2 separate regions of the Homo sapiens genome follow, and region 1 is linked to region 2. Evidence: fine-mapped expression QTL. Tissue or cell type: cerebellar hemisphere. Region 2 holds a variant in brackets; the other region holds the start of a gene. All regions are shown on one strand. Distances are between the middles of the regions.

Region 1 (2,500 bases), 35 kb after region 2:
GAGTATCATTGAGGATAAAATTTCATTGTATTACTACTTATAATAGGGCCGGGGACTGGTGTCATGAACACATTCAGCACTTACAGGCTTAAAAAAAAAAAAAAAAGCAAAACCACAGTGACTCAGCAAAGACACACCCCACCAGCTGGCTATCAGCTCCCGGCAGGACTCAGCCCCTCCCTTCTCCCTTTGCTTAGAGGCATCCTAAAGCCTGGAAGCAGTGTGACTGGACATGCAGTGCTTTCTCCCAAGCCCGGCCAGCAGAGGCTTCCCCCTTCCCACAGAGTCCCTCACCTGCTGGCCCAAGTCTGCCCTTGCCCACCACCACTGTGGGCTGTTCCAAGACACCAGGGCCAAGTTCTCAGCTGCAAACGCCACAGTCCAGAGGAGCAGGAGACCAGGGCTGTGCCTGAACTTGATCCAGATGCCCATTGCCAGACGCTGCCGTGCCTGGCTCCGCTCCACGACAAGCAGCCACAGGCCACAGGCGCCGGCCAGACTCTCCAGCACGGAGGCCAGAAGTAGATAGCTTGGCAGTGGGGCCCCCCGGGCAGTGCCCACCCGGCCAGCCAGGCCGGCCAGGGGCAGCGCCGCCTGAAGTGTGGCCAGAAGCAGCTGCAGCACGTAGGGAGAGATGCGAGGGCCGGCCCCCCAAGACAGCGAATCAGCACCAGCGGGCCGCTCCCGGCGTCTGCAGGGAAGAGCCAGCACCAAGGCCAGAGTCCCCAGAGCCATCCGCGTCGAGGGCACGAGCGTGAAGAAGAAGCAGGGACTCAGGCCATCCTGCATCCAGGCCGGACCCACGGGCCCTTCGGCCTCGCAGTAGTTGCCCACAGTCACCATGGCAATGCGTGGACGCCGGCCGAGGCTGCGGGCACTGCGGGACCGGAGGCCGGGACTGGTCACTCGGAGAGGGGCGCGGACATCCGGGTGCCTTGGCTCACGTAGCCGCTGGGCGCCAAGCTGCGGGGGTCCCGGGAAGGGACGCACGTGGACCAGGCCTCACCGCCCACTCCCCTAGCGCACGCGCCGCCGCCACGCACTCACGCAGGGCACGTACGCCGTCTCAGCACGGCCCCGCTGGCTCTGGGCCCGGGACCCTCCTGCCAACTGCAGGCCCACGGGAATGCTCGGTGTTGGACTCGCACCGCGCTCCACGGCTGTAGCCCCGCCCACAGCCCCTACCCACGGCTCCCATTGGCCAAATGTCTCCGAGGGGGGAGCGGGGGGAATGGTGCAGGCAACGAATGCAAATTAGAGAAGCAGAGCCGGCTTGGTCACGTGCCCAGGGCGGGAAATCTGACGACCAGGCCGAGCTGGAAACCTCCACGGAATCGTGGCTCGGGGCTGGAAACAGACCTCACGGAATCCTGGCTCGGGGCAGGACACAGACCTCCACGGAACTGTGGGTCGGAAGCTGCCCTTCCGCCAGCCGCCTTGCTCAGCGTATCTGAGCGACGGCCTAAACATACTTTCTTCTAGACCCCGGCAGAGTCCCCATCCCATTTCTCTTGTTCCCAGGATTCTAGCCGCGCGAGACAACAAGAAGTCTGGTCAAACTCCCTTTTTATTAAGGGTTATCAAGCTGTACACGGTCCCTACCCTGCTCCGCTCCGAGTTCGGGCAGCGCAATTCACCACTCTCCCAAAGCCGGACCACAGCTGGGTGAGGGGTGGGACAGAGAGTAGGAGCAGTCCCAGCATGCAGTGCAGCAGCCCAAAGCCTCGGGCGAGGCATCGCCCTTCATCCCCCTTCAGGGCACAGCGAGATGCGGGCCAGAGCTCTTTTGCTGGGACGCACACAGCCAAGGTCACCCTCCAGCCCGGTCTGTCCCATGTGCAGGTGATGGGGGGTACGATAAGCAGCAATGAGGGCCCAGGAAGACCTCAGTCTCCTGGGGGCCCATCCTAAAAGATGGCAAGGGCAGCAAAGTATTTCCATCCTGCTCCTACAATTTAGAAACCTTCTTTTTTAGTGTCAAAATATAGCGTTGAGGGGAGCTGGACGCTAGGGTCTTCACCCTAACGCAAAGCAAAAGCCGAACGGAACGGGAGCAAGCGAACAGAACAGGAGCAAGCAGCACACACAGGCCAGTGATGTGCAAGAAGCGGAGAGAGGTGAGCCGGCTGCAGCACTGGGCGAGAACTGCGGGTGAGGTAAGGGCCACAGCCTGACCTGCTCATCTATTGAGGGGGCTAGGGAAGGTTGCAGGGGTTGAGGGTCCAGGCCCAACCTCCCCACTCCACAGTTGGCACAGGTTCTCCCTGCTTGGCAGCTTCTATCGTGGGCAGCCCTCTGGGGACTTGCAGGGGTAGGTGTAAAGGTGGCAGTACTGGGGCTGGGCTGGGGGCCAGTTTCTAGCACCACACTCTGAGCCAAGGGGGTCCTGGGGATGAGGCTAGAGTCCCGTGTGCCCTCGGTTCCTAGGCCCCAAATTCCTCTCCTGGGGCTGTGGCAAGCCCAGTGTTGGCACCTCCCTTGGCCAGGCACAGACACACAA
Region 2 (2,500 bases):
CAAGCTTTAGGGAGGCTCCTGGTCTGGGAAGTAAAGAGTAAACCTGGGGCAGTGGGTCAGGCCAGTAGTTACACTCTTAGGTCACTGTAGTCTGTGTAACCTTCACTGCATCCTTGCCCCATTCAGCCCGGCCTTTCATGATGCAGGAGAGCAGGGATCCCGCAGTACATGGCGCCAGCACTGGAGTTGGTGAGCATGTGCTCTCTCTTGAGATTAGGAGCTTCCTTACTGCTCCTCTGGGTGATCCAAGTGTAGTGGGACCCCCTACTAGGGTCAGGAAGTGGACACTAACATCTGTGCAGGTGTTGACTTGAAAAATAAAGTGTTGATTGGCTAGAACTGCTGCCTCCCTGACTGTGAGCTGCCTTCCACACCCTGCACTGCACTGTGTTCTCTCCTCACCCTTAACCTGCTTCACTCCAGTCTGTTCTGGCTGTTTATTACCTTGTTGCAAAACAGGGCCGAAGCAAGGATTACCTTGACAACCCTAGCTTCTCCTTAGCCATCTTCCTTGACAGTGTGATCTGTTTAGTGAGATTTAGCATGTGTGAATAAAGTATATGCAGGAGGAAATTGCTTTGTCTTCCCAATCGGTAGAAATTCGGGACCATAAAAATTGTGTTTTACCATGTGGCCTACAACCTTAACACTGCTTTCTTAAGAAGTCTTCACCCATCTACATGCTAACAACTCACTCAGCCTGGATTTATCTTTACTGGGGAAGCCAAACAAGCAATAGAGGACCTTTACCTGTGTTAGAAATGAGTTGGAGCCAAGGAACACTGAAGAAATAGTATCTTAACAGTTACTGAGTCCATTGTATGTGCTTGGCTCTGCTCTGAGTGATTTATATGTATTAAGATTTTTCCTCACAGGTCAGATATATACTGTTACTAACTTCATTTTATAGACAGGTTAAGCTTCCTGAAGGCCACAGGTCCCAGTAAATTGTGGAGCCAGAACCCAAACCCAAGAAGTTTTGGCTTCAGCAAATGCATCAGACAGCCCCTGTCCATTAATAGGGCACAGGTAGGAAGATGCACAAGGATGTGGGAACTATAGAGAACCAATCTGATGCCTTGGCTTAACAAAGAGTGGACATGGCAAGCCTTCCTCTTTGGGGAAGAAAAGCCCAGAACTGAGCAGATGGCCTCCTTTATGAGTTCATGTCCTCCGCCTTCAGCTGGAGGTACCATATGGCGATGCTACCTGTCTTTCTGCTGGAGGTACCATATGGTAATGCTGCCTGGCT[G/T]TCTGCTGGAGGTACCATATGGTAATGCTGCCTGTCTTTCTGAGGTTGACTTTTATGCCATGTCTTTCCTAAGTGTGTAAGAATTTTTCTGTTTGCTTCACATTTGACTGAGAATCATTCTAGGGTTTGATTGAGCCCCTGTCCTGTGCCACTAAAGGAACTCGAACTTTTCATCACTTAGAGATTTCAGAGGGGAATGGAAAAACAGTTCTAATCAATAAGCAAGCAATTCAAGAAAAATAGAATTAATCAGGCAATGACTGCAACATGTCCTATCTTTAATCTATTTTCTTATTAAGCTTGGACATTGACAATAGAACCAGAAGCTTGTAGCTGGATCAAAATATTCTCCATAGGCCTGGAGTTTCATGAGGGTCTATTCTTTTGTTGTTGTTGTTTTGGTTTTTTGTTTTTTGTGGGTTTTTTTTTTTTTTTTTTTGAGACGGAGTCTTGTTCTGTTGCCCAGGCTGGAGTGCAATGGTGCAGTCTTGGTTCACTGCAACCTCTGCCTCCCAGGTTCAAACAATTCTCCTGCCTCAGCCGTCCAAGTAGCTGGGATTACAGGTGCATGCCACGATGCCTGGCTATTTTTTGTATTTTTAGTAGAGGTGGGGTTTCACCATGTTGGCCAGGCTGGTCTCGAACTCCTGACCTCAGGTGATTCACCCACCTCGGCCTCCCAAAGTGCTGGGATTACAGGTGTGAGCCACGGCGCCCAGCCTCATGAGGGTCTATTCTTTACATTCACCATGGTCTGATGGTTGCTACATGTTTGTCTATGATTTTTTTTTTCTATTATCAGGTGTCTTGGCCGGTTCATGCCCCACGATGAAAGGGCCAGAGGTTTTCATATGAGTAAAAGAAAAAAGCAGAAATGTGAAACCTACAATTAGGCTAAACAAAAATCAACTGGAAAAGTACAGGCTGAGGGGAGAAGAGTTGGCTACATGTTTATGTTAGGGGAGGAGGGAGTACATTTTAGCTATGTATTCAAACAGCTAATAGTTTAATGTTGCTGCTTATAAACTTAATTTTAGGCTGCATTAATAAAAGTGTAGTCTCCAAAACAAGAAATGTGATAATTCTAGTGTCCTGTGCACGAATATCCTAATACTTCCAGAGGATGGCTTGCTAGGCTTGTGGGCAAATTGTAGTATGTCCAGGAGATGACTGCTAGAAATGAAGGCTGAAAATCATCATAGGACAAACTGTTGGAGGAACTGGGAATCTCTAATCCAAGAAGAGAGC

Which allele goes with the higher level. Positions count from the first base shown, and alleles are read on the strand shown. Sizes are in standard deviations (SD) of each study's normalised expression.
As copies of G replace T in region 2, the expression in cerebellar hemisphere of the gene that starts at base 1,128 in region 1 goes down (small effect, 0.20 SD a copy in GTEx).

The links. PIP is the estimated chance that this variant, and not a neighbour inherited with it, causes the effect. A credible set is the group of variants that fine-mapping cannot tell apart.
Region 1: ABCB6 starts here. The variant in region 2 is the best candidate, but not a certain one, in a credible set for the expression of ABCB6 in cerebellar hemisphere (GTEx, PIP 0.82).

What each region holds. Positions count from the first base shown.
Region 1 is chr2:219,217,831-219,220,330 of GRCh38, forward strand. ABCB6 (ATP binding cassette subfamily B member 6 (LAN blood group)) reads right to left here and starts at 1,128. Exons shown (of 19, transcript NM_005689.4): 1 at 295-1,128. The coding sequence starts at 843. ATG9A (autophagy related 9A) reads right to left here. Exons shown (of 16, transcript NM_001077198.3): 16 at 1,550-2,500. RefSeq lists an enhancer at 345-1,212 and a silencer at 458-567.
Region 2 is chr2:219,183,154-219,185,653 of GRCh38, forward strand. RETREG2 (reticulophagy regulator family member 2) reads left to right here. Exons shown (of 9, transcript NM_024293.6): 9 at 1-2,322. Among named protein-coding and RNA genes, the nearest start is that of RETREG2, 6.1 kb to the left of the region's middle. The variant G/T (reference allele first, on the strand shown) is at 1,253.